Linked DNA regions of Homo sapiens: region 2 is linked to region 1. Evidence: fine-mapped expression QTL. Tissue or cell type: whole blood. Region 1 holds a variant in brackets; the other region holds the start of a gene. All regions are shown on one strand. Distances are from middle to middle.

Region 1 (5,000 bases):
TAATCCCAGCACTTTGGAAGGCTGAGGTGGGTGGATCACCTGAGGTCAGGAGTTCGAGACCAGCCTGGCCAACATGGTGAAACCCCATCTCTACTAAAAATACAAAAATTAGCTGGGCATAATGGCAGGCGCCCGTAATCCCAGCTACTTGGGAGGCTGAGGCAGGAGGATCGTCTGAACCTGGGAGGCGGAGGTTGCAGTGAGCCGAGATTGTGCCATTGCACTCCAGCCTGGGATACAAGTGTGAAACTCCATCTCAAAAAAGAAAAAGAAATCACTCTGCAACTTCATGAAATCGACTGCATGGGTTCCAATCCCACCTCTTACACTTCTCAGCTGTGTGACTTTGAATTTGAGTTCACTTCTCTGGGCCTGTTTTCTCATCCGTAAAATAGGGTAATAACATCTGCCACCTGGGATTACTGTGAACGTTAAACTAATATTCATAGAGTAAGCGTGAGTCAGGTGTTTGCCGTTATTATTAAGCCTCACAGCAGATTGTTCTTACCGTCCAGAATTTTTTTTTTGAGACAGTCTCTCGCTCTTTCACCCAGGCTGGAGTGCAGTGGCATGATCTCGGCTCACTGCAACCTTCGCCTACCGGGTTCAAGCAATTCTCCCTGCCTCAGCCGCCTGAGTAGCTGGGATTACAGGCACCTGCCACCACGCCCGGCTAATTTTTGTATTTTTAGTAGAGACGGGGTTTCACCATGTTGGCCAGGCTGGTCTCGATCTCCTGACCTCGTGATCTGCCCGCCTCGGCCTCCCAAAGTGCTGCGATTACAGGTGTCAGCCACCGCGCCCGGCCTATGCCTTTCTTTCCTTTCTTTTCTTTCTCTCTCTCTCCGTCCTGTCCTGTCTTAGACGGAGTCTCGCTCTGTCACCCAGCTGGAGTGCAGTCGGGAGATCTCGGCTCACTGCAAGCTCCGCCTCCCGGGTTCATGCCATTCTCCTGCCTCAGTCTCCTGAGTAGCTGGGACTACAGGCGCCCGCCACCACGCCTGGCTAATTTTTTTTGTATTTTTAGTAGAGACGGGTTTCACCGTGTTAGCCAGGTTGGTCTCGATCTCCTGACCTCGTGATCCGCCCGCCTCGGCCTCCCAAAGTGCTGGGATTACAGGCTTGAGCCACCGCGCCTGGCCCAGCCTATGCCTTTCTAATTGCTCTAGCAAACTCCCGGTGGGGCTGCGGGCCTGGCTCTCACCGTGGGGGGGCTCTGGCTGGAGTCACAGTGCGTCAGCAGCTCATACAGGGTCACCCCGAAGGACCAGACATCTGACGCATAGTAGAACTTATACTCCTTCAGGCACTCTGGGGCATACCTAGGGGGAGGGGGGCACTCAGGCCACGGGGGGCTGCACTGAGGGCTTGGGGATCAGACCAGGCTGAAGCCCTCACCTGAGACTGAAGGACCCTCTGGGCTCAGTTGGGACCCACCCTTAAGAGCGCAGCCTGAGCGGGGTGATATGCTCATTGGCTAGGCCGCTCATTGGCTAGGCCGGGTTAACCCCGCCCACCAGGCCAAGCCGCACTCTATACACCGCCCCTTGCCTCCATAGGCCCCACCCCCGCACCGCTAGGCCCCGCCGCGCTTCACTGGGATCATGCCCTATCATGATACCCAGCATCCGTCTACTCCACCCTGCCTGTTCCAAGTGACCCCAGCACCCCCTCAGACTGCACCCCGCCTGGTCACCAGAACACGGGGCTGTCCCCATCCTCGCGCACGCGGTAGTACTCGTGGCCTTCGGGCACGGCCTTGGCTAGGCCAAAGTCCCCGATCTTGACCAGCCTGTCGTTGTCCAGCAGCACGTTGCGCGCGGCTAGGTCTCGGTGGATGTAGTGCTGCGCGTGCAGATAGGCCATGCCCTGGGGACGGGGCAGGGCTCGTGAGTTTCAGTGGGGCGGGGTTCGGCCGGGGGCGGCGGCAGGACCTGAGCAGCCAGGAGGGCTGGGGGACAGTCAGGTCAGGCCGGTGGCTACCCGGCCGCTGGAGAGGGCCGGATGGCACGTGGCACCAAGCAAAAGGAGGCTGAGCCAGAAAGCAGGGACGGGGCTAGACGAGCAAAGCTGGGCAGGAGGGCGAGTTGGGAGGGGCCGAGCCGGCTGTGCGTGGTCCCTTGGGAGGAGGGGGTGTGGCCAAGCAAGCCAAACAGTTCGGAGGTCAGTGCAAGGACAAGACAGCCTGGGCAAACGAGCAGGGGCGGAGCGTGAGAGCAGACTGCACCGGATCGCTCAGGCCAGCCCAAGCTGAAGAGGAAGGGGCAAGCTCCAGAAGCAGGGGCGGGGCCGACCAACCTCGCAGATCTGCTGGGCGAAGAGCAGCAGCTGGGCCAGCCCGATGCTGTGCCGGGGCAGGTAGTCTCGGAGGCTGCCCAGGGGCACGTACTCCATGACCAGCTGCAGCGACTTCTCGCCTGCCGCGGAGAGGGGCGGCCCCGGTGGGGGACGATAGAGGGCGGGCCGGGGACCGCCTACCTTGAGCCCAGCAGAGCCCCTCCAAGGTCGGGAGGGAAGGCCAAGACCCGCGCACACTAGACCCAGTTCTCAGGTGGGATGGACCCATCCAGAACCCCATTCTCACTTGAGGGAGCTGCTGGTGGCTCCCGTCCATCCTGGCCCCAGCAGGTAGCA[C/T]CCCCCAGATGGGAAGGAGGCAGCCCAGCCACGCTCACCCAGATGCCAAGAACCGCGTACTGCAGCCTGGGGTTGAGAGTCTCTAATTGGCTAGGCCAGACTGGCCCCGCCCACAAGGCCACACCCACGCTCTAACCACGCCCCCTCAAGTCTCTAGGACTCGCCGGGTCCCGCCCACCTTGGTCCTCGCAGCAGCCCTTGTACTTGATGATGTGCTCGTGGTAGAGCGTGCGCAGAATGTCAATCTCCTGCTTCCAGCCCGAGCGGTGCTGGGGGCCGCAGTCTGCCTTGAGGGCTTTCACCGCCACCATCTCGCCAGTGCCGTCGTTGGTCGGATCGTAGCAGTACAAGCTGACCTTGCCGAAGTGACCCTGGTCGGGAGCGCACGAGGGTCAGCTCCACCTCCCCAATCCCTGCACCACTCCCCAACCCCCGATTTCCCGGGCCACTCCTCCAGGCAGATCCTTTCGGAATACCCCAGGCCCCGCCTACTCCGCTCTATTAAGACTCCTTGGCACCTAGGCCTCCCTCAAAGCAGAGGGTCCCACCCACATCTCCTGAGAATCACCTTAGGTAGGAATTTATCCTCAACCCCCAAACTCCTTCCCGACCAGGCGGGCCTTTTAGCAGCTCAGGCCCGTCCCTCACCTCGCCCAGATCTCGGATCTTTTTCAAATAGCGCTTGTGGAAAACCGTAGGGTCCGACGCCGGTGAGTCCGGGTTCACAGTCAAGACGTCAGCAAGATCTGGAAGAGTTGCGGTGGGTAAAGGCCTGACCCCGATCCTTTCCCCAGCAGGCCCACACTTGGGAGTCACAAAGCCAGCCACAGCTACCCCAGGATCCGATTCTAGAGGTAAGAAAACTTTTTCCTGCAACAGCTGAAAGAGTCCACTTATTGTACAAAATGATGCAGAGTTGGCTGCATCAAAACTGACACCTGTTTGGGAGGCCGAGGCGGGAAGATCACTTGAGCCCGGGAGTTCAAGACCAGCCTGGACAACATGGTGAAACCCCCTCTCTACAAAAAAGTTAAAAAAAAAAATTAGCCAGGTGTGGTGGTGCATGCCTGTGGTCCCAGCTACTCAGGAGGCTGAGGTAGGAGGATCGTTTGAGCCCAGGAGTTTTGAGGCTGCAGTGAGTCTGGGCCACAGAGAGACACTGTCTTTAAAAAAAAAAAAAAGAAAGAAAGAAAGAAAAAGAAAAAACAGAAAAACCTGACATCTGGAAGTTCCGAGATTGGGTAGAGGGCACAGATATTTCATAGAGAAAAGAGAAAAACTGGCCAGGCGTGGTGGCTCACACCTGTAATCCCAGCACTTTGGGAGGCCGAGGCAGGAGGATCCCTAGAGCCCAGGAGTCTCAGGCTGCAGTGAGCCATGATCGTGCCTCTGAATAACCACCACACTCCTGCCTGGGCAACACAGCAAGACCTAGTCTTTAAAACAAAAAAGAGAAAGAAAAATGTGATATGACCAGTTGAAAATGGCATATTAGGCCGGGCGTGGTGGCTCACGCCTGTAATCCCAACACTTTGGGAGGCTGAGGAGGGTGGATCACCTGAGGTCAGGAGTTTGAGACCAGCCTAGCCAACACAGTGAAACCCCGTCTCTACTAAAAATACAAAAATTAGCTGGGTGTGGTGGTGGACGCCTGTAATCCCAGCTACTCGGGAGGCTGAGGCAGGAGAATTGCTCGAACCCAGGAGGCGGAGGTTGCAGTGGGCCGAGATCGTGCCATTGCACTCCAGCCTGTGCAACAAGAGCAAAACTCCATCTCAAAAAAAAAAAAAAGAAAGAAAGAAAAAAAAAAAGAAAATAGGTCAGGCGCAGTGGCTCATGCCTGTAATCCCAGCACTTTGGGAGGCCGAGGCGGGTGGATCACGAGGTCAAGAGACTGAGACCATCCTGGCCAACATGGTGAATTCCCGTCTCTACTAAAAATACAAAAATTAGCCCGGCGTGGTGGTGGGCGCCTGTAGTCCCAGCTACCCAGGAGGCTGAGGCAGGACAATTACTTGAACCTGGGAGACGGAGGTTGCAGTGAGCCAAGATTGCACCACTGCACTCCAGCCTGGCAACAGAGTGAGACTCCGTCTCAAAAAAAAGAAAAAAGAGCATATTAATTTTTTAAAGAGAACAATACAAAACTTTTTTAAAAAGAAAAAAAAAACTGCAGTGGTCTAATTCTCTAATCCAAAGAAGTTGTGTCTCTCCCCAGACAAAACATTAAGGAGGCCAGGCGCAGTGGCTCACGCCTGTAATCCCAGCAATTTGGGAGGCTGAAGCAGATAGATCATTTGAGGTCTAGAGTTTGAGACCAGCCTGGCCAACATGGCAAAACCCCACCTCTACTAAAAATACAAAAA
Region 2 (6,300 bases), 28 kb after region 1:
TGACTCACTGAAAGTGACCCAGGGCTCCCCGCCGCCTGGACCAGCCCAGTGCAGAAGCACCTTCAGGCCTCCCATGGCAGCCATGGGCTGGGCTCCATCCCCAACGGGCTTACTGCCCCTGGCCATCCCCCAGTGGCGCAGAGGCATGCTCCCGGCAGGTGGCTCAGCTGGAAAGGGGACAATCTGTCAGCTCCCAAGTCTCAGCCCAGAGACCCCTGTTAGCTCTTCAACCTTCCACCCACCCCAGCTAAGGCCTGAGGGGAAGATTCTGGGCTCCCATCTTGGCATGACATTAGAGACCCGATTCCCTCTCTGAGTCTCGTTTTCCACATTTATTGGACAGGGTTGGGGTATGCATCCCCACCTAGATCTCTCATCAACAATAACACTGAACCCTCCTCTCTTTCCACAAATTGACACAGATATAAAAATCTGCTCTGGCCAGGTACAGTGGCTCACGCCTCTAATCCCAGGACTTTGGGATGTTGAGGCAAGAGGATTGCTTGAGCCCAGGAGCTCGAGACCAGCCTAGGCCATATAGCAAGACCCTGTTTCTACAAGACGTTTTATTTTATATCTTATCTTATCTTATCTTATCTTATCTTATCTTATCTTATCTTATTTTTGAGACAGAGTTTCACTCTTGTTGCCCAGGCTGGAGTGCAATGGTACAATCTTGCTCACCACAACCTCTGCCTCCTGGGTTTAAGTGATTCTCCTGCCTCAGCCTCCTGAGTAGCTGGCGCCTGCCACCACACCGGGCTAATTTTTGTATTTTTAGTAGAGACAGGGTTTTGCCATGTTGGCCAGGCTGGTCTTGAACCTCTGACCTCAGGTGATCCACCCGCCTCGGCCTCCCAAAGTGCTGGGATTACAGGCGTGAGCCACTGTGCCCGGCCTCTACAAGAAATTTTTAAAATTTAGCCAGGCGTGGGGGTGCACATCTGTACTCCAAGCTACTCGGGAGGCTGAAGTGGGAGGATCTCCTGAGCCCAGGAGTTGGAGGCTGCAGTGAGCAGTGATCGCACCACTGCATTCCAGCCTGGGTGACAGAGTGAGACCCTGACTCTAAAAATATAAATAAATAAATAAATAAATAAGTAATAAAAATATATAAAAAGGGCCAGGCGCGGTGGCTCATGACTGTAATCCCAGCACTTTGGGAGGCCAAGGCGGACAGATCACGAGGTCTGGAGATTGAGACCATCTTGACCAACATGGTGAAACCCCATCTCTACTAAAATACAATAAATAAATAAATAAATAAATAAATAAATAAATAAAAAGTAAAATAAAAATCTGCTCTTAACACACCTCCCCAAAATAACCAGACAGGCAGATGTGGTCAAACATACCTGAGGGTGAGTCCTGGAGCTCCCTGTGTCAACTCAAGCAAGCCACTTAGCAATTCTGGGCCTCAGTTTCCCCATCTGGAAAAGGGAGGTCCTCAGGGTGTTGCCATCAAAAGATGGTTGTAATGTTTCAATATAGTTCCGCATATTACACATTCAGCACAGACCCTGATTCAGGCACACACAAAAAGAACAAATATGACCAAAACAAGAATAACATAATTGTTATTAGTTTCATCGTGGTGATGGCCTCTTTCAGGCCACAATTCTCCTCTCCCACATTTACCCCCATGAGTGACCTCAGTCCCTGTTGACTCCCCAAAGCCTAGGAGAGTTTATGTCCAGCTCCATCCCCCCAATCCAGGGCCTGAGCCTCCTGAGGGCGCCAGTATGGAAGTGGAGGGGCTGTCACTTCCACCCATGTTGCTGGTTTCCTCATCTGGAAAATGGGCATGTAACAGTGTCTACCTCAAAAGGCTGCTGGGAGGATTTAACGCGAGGAGGCAGAGAAAGTGCCTGGTATACAGTAAGCGCTTAATTAGCCTTTGCCATTAATACCTATTCATGTTATAGATGAGATCCCGGGGATGGGGCTTTCGCGGAGCCTACTTCCTCCTTCCTCCTTTCTCGTCCCCACTGGACCCAGACCCAGCTTTGAAGACAGGGTCGGAGTGAAGTTTGCAACTGGGAAGGCTGCACGCCCCCATGTCCTCCCCCCAAAACCTCTAAACCCGGCCGGCAACGGCGGGAACTGGGATGTGCACCCACCGGGCATCGGAGCAGTCCCGAGGCACCAGGTGCTCCCATCCAAGTGCAGCCTGTCAAGCGCAGCCAGTCCCCGCGGCTTCTTCCTGAGGACCTCCGGCCGCGCTCCTTCCGCGCCCGCGTCCAGACTCACCCTTCCGGGGGAACACAAGCTCGAACCCGGACCCCTCCCCGCTCCCGCGGGTAGCTACTGCTTGTCCCCCGCCGAGACGCCTCCTCCCATTGGCCGCCTGAAACGCACACGCCCATTGGCAGCTGCTCTGTTCTCCCTGCTCGTCACCATTGGATTTTTTTTTTTTTGCCATGGTGGCGGCACTCTCATTGGTCCTGGGGCTCATTCGTCACTCAGCCGCGATTGGCTGAGTCGGCACCCAGATGCGCTGTCGCTTCTGCTATTGGCTGGCACTCGGTGGACGGAGACGGGGGAGGGGCTTGCGAGAGGCGGGAGGGAGAGCGAAGTGTGTGGGCAACGCGGCCGGATCCTGGAGTTCCCCTCCGTGCTGTGGAATTGGGTCAGGCGTGTACGGTCCTGACCCTAGGACACAGCTGCATGTCCTCACCTCGGTGTTCAAAGCTGCACCGGCCACCATTCAACCCTCCGACGCCCTGCCCTTTGGCTTCCCCGTTCCATCCGGTCCTGTCTCCTTTCCCTCGTTTCTACCTGGCCGACTCCATCCTGCTGACTAGAATTCCCCCTCCTTCACTCCTGGGAGGCATTCCTCGCCCACCTGCCCCAGTCCTCTTCCTGATCACCTGCAGCCCTGTCCTCTGAAGCTCCCTAGCGGTCAGGGTAGCAGCTTGGACATCCCGCCAGACGTGAATTCAAATCCCCACTCCGCAAGTCGTGCCCATTTGCTGAGAAGCCTACAGCCAGAGCGTTTCACATACATTATCTCATTTGATCCTAGCAGCAATTCCCTGTATGGCGGCTCTTATTATCCCCATTTCACAGAGGAAGAAACTCAGGCATGAAGAGGTAACAAAGACCGTCCTCTGACCCTTCTTCTGTGCCACACCATAACCACTCCTCGACTTTGTCTTTCACCTGCCCAGCCAAGTCTTAGCAAAGAAGCCTATTAAGTCATCCGCTCATCCTTGATGTCTGATCAACTTCCTCATCTTCCACTTTTTTTTTTTTTTTTTTTTAAGATGGAGTTTCGCTCTTGTCGCCCAGGCTGGAGTGCAATGCTGCGATCTCGGCTCACTGCAACCTCAGACTCCCGGATTCAAGCGATTCTCCTGCCTCAGCCTCCTGGGTAGCTGGGACAACAGGCGCCCGCCACCACGCCCGGCTAATTTTTGTATTTTTAGTAGAGATGGGATTTCACCATCTTGGCCAGGCTGGTCTCGAACTCCTGACCTCGTGATCCACCCTCCCAAAGCGCTGGGATTACAGGCGTGAGCCACCGCACCCGGCCCTTTTGTTGTTAATTTTTAAATTTTGTGGCTAATTTTTAAATTTTTGTAGAGATGGGGTCTGGCTATGTTGCCCAGGCTGGTCTTGAACTTCTGGCCTCAAGCAATCATCCTGCCTTGGCTTTCCAAAGTGCTGGGATTACAGATGTGAGCTAAGACACCCAGCTCCATGGAGTTGGTCTTAACTGCCATGGCCAAGGGACATGTGGCTGCTTCTCTCTGAGTCAGAAAATATGGGTAAAAAGCCTCCTCACAGGGCAGCTGTGGACATTCAGTATGAAAATGCTGAAAGAGATCGGGAATGGTCTCTTTCACACCTGTAATCCCAGCACTTTGGGAGGTGGAGGCGGGCGGATCACCTGAGGTCAGGAGTTCAAGACCAGACTGGCCAACATGGTGAAACCCTGTCTCTACTAAAAATGCAAAAATTAGCTGGGCATGGTGGTGGGCACCTGTAATCCCAGCTATTCAGGAGGCTGAGGCAGGAGAATCGCTTGAACTTGGGAGGCAGAAGTTGCAGTGAGCCGAGATCACACCATTGCCCTTCAGCCTGGGCAACAAGAGCTAAACTCTGTCTCAAAAAAAAAAAAAGAAAAAGAAAAAGAAAGAAAATGCTGATAGAGGCCGGGCACAGTGGCTCACGCCTGTAATCCCAGCACTTTGGGAGGCCGAGGTGGGCGGATCATGAGGTCAGGAAATCGAGACCATCCTGGCTAAGGCGGTGAAACCCCGTCTCTACTAAAAATACAAACAATTAGCTGGGCGTAGTGGCAGCCTGAGGCAGGAGAATGGCGTGAACCGGGGAGGCGGAGCTTGCAGTGAGCCGAGATTGCGCCACTGCACTCCAGCCTGGGCGCCAGAGTGAGACTCTGTCTCAAAAATAAAATAAAATAAAATAAAATAAAATGCTGATAGAGACTTGTCCTGGCTGGATGCAGTGGCTCATCCCTATAAACCTAGCACTTCAGGGAGCTAAAGAAGGAGTACTGTCTGGGCCCAGTTCAAGACCAACCTGGGCAATATAGCAAGACCCCATCTCTACCCAAAATAAAAAAAATTAGTCTAAGGCTGAAGTATGAGAATCGCTTGAGCCCAGGAGGTGGAGGTTGCAGTGGGCTGAGATCCCACCACTGCACTCCAGCTTGGGCTACAGAGTGAGACTCCATCTCGGGGGGAAAAAAAATTAGTTAGTCCCAGCTACTCCGAAGGCTGAGGTGGGAGGATTGCTTGAGCCCAGGAGGTTGAGGCTACAGTGAGCCGTGATCACACCACTGCACTCCAGCCTGGGCAACTTGACCTCCTGGGCTCTGCTGTATTTTCTTCAGAGTCCTTATTGCAACCTGACATTTCATGGGAAGTTTCTTTCTTTTTTTTTTTTTTTAAAGAGACAGAGTCTTGCTCTGTTGCCCAGGCTGGAGTGCAGTGGCGCAATCTTGGCTCACTGCAACCTCTGCCTCTCAGGTTCAAGCAATTCTCCTGCGTCAGCATCCCCGGTAGCTGGGATTACAGGCGTGCACCACCACGCCTGGCTAATTTTTGTATTTTTAATAGAGACAGGGTTTGGCCAGGTTGGCCATACTGGTCTCGAGCTCCTGACCTCAGGTGATCCACCCGCCTTGGCCTCCCAAAGTGCTGGGATTACAGATGTGAGCCACCGCGCCCAGCTGGGTTTCTCTTCTTTCTTTCTTTCTTTTTTTTTTTTTTTTTTTTTTTTTTGAGACAAGAATCTCGCTCTGTTGCCCAGGCTGGAGTGCAGTGCTGTGATCTCAATTCACTGCAGTCTCAACTTCCCAGATTCACCATTCACAATCTTCCACCTCAGCCTCCTGAGTAGCTGGGACTACAGATGTGCATCACGATGCCTGGGTAACTTTTTTTTTTTTGAGGCGGAGTCTTGCTCTGTTGCTAGGCTGAAGTGCAGTGGCACGATCTCGGCTCACTGTAATCCCTGCCTCCCAGGTTCTAGCGATTCTTCTGCCTCAGCCTCCAGAGAAGCTGGGATTACAGGCGTGTGCCACCACACCCAGCTAATTTTTTTGTATTTTTTAGTAGAGATGGGGTTTCACCATGTTGGCCAGGATGGCCTCAATCTCCTGACCTCATGATCCTCACGCCTCGGCCTCCCAAAGTGCTGGGATTACAGAAGTGAGCCACCGCGCCCAGCCGCCTGGCTAACTTTTGTGTGTGTGTATTTTTTATAGAAATGGGCTTCCACCAACCCCGTCTCTACTAAAAATACAAAAATTAGCCGGGTGTGTTGGTGGGTGCCTATAATCCCAGCTACTTGGGAAGCTGAGGCAGGTGAATCACTTGAACCTGGGAGGCGGAGTTTGCAGTGAGCTGAGATCGCGCCACTGCACTCTAGCCTGGGCGACAGAGTGAGACTCTATCTCAAAAAAAAAAAAAGGAAAAGAAATGGGTTTTCACCATGTTGCCCAGGCTGGTCTCAAACTACTGGGCTCAAGTGGTCCTCCCGCCTTGACCTCCCAAACTGCTGGGATTACAGGCGCATGCCACCACACCCGGCTAATTTTTTAGTATTTTTTAGTAGGGACGAGGTTTCACCATGTGGGCCAGGATGGCCTTGATCTCCTGACCTCGTGATCCTCCCGCCTTGGCCTCCCAAAGTGCTGGGAATACCGGTGTGAGCCACCTCGCCTGGCCGGCTGGCTAACTTTTGTGTGTGTGTAATTTTTTTAGAAATGGGTTTTCACTATGTTGCCCAGGCTGGTCTCAAACTACTGGGCTCAAACTGCTGGGCTCAAGT

Evidence for each region. PIP is the estimated chance that this variant, and not a neighbour inherited with it, causes the effect.
Region 2: TYK2 starts here. The variant in region 1 is fine-mapped to the expression of TYK2 in whole blood (INTERVAL, PIP above 0.99). The same link has a PIP of 0.9 or more in nasal epithelium.

The regions. Positions count from the first base shown.
Region 1 is chr19:10,351,230-10,356,229 of GRCh38, forward strand. TYK2 (tyrosine kinase 2) reads right to left here. Exons shown (of 25, transcript NM_003331.5): 19 at 3,283-3,380; 20 at 2,813-3,005; 21 at 2,299-2,417; 22 at 1,697-1,869; 23 at 1,205-1,322. Among named protein-coding and RNA genes, the nearest start is that of ICAM3, 14 kb to the left of the region's middle. RefSeq lists an enhancer at 2,018-2,781 and a silencer at 2,683-2,732. The variant C/T (reference allele first, on the strand shown) is at 2,635.
Region 2 is chr19:10,378,260-10,384,559 of GRCh38, forward strand. TYK2 (tyrosine kinase 2) reads right to left here and starts at 2,313. Exons shown (of 25, transcript NM_003331.5): 1 at 2,121-2,313; 2 at 1,356-1,520; 3 at 1-167. The coding sequence starts at 147. RefSeq lists enhancers at 2,211-2,370, 2,279-2,942.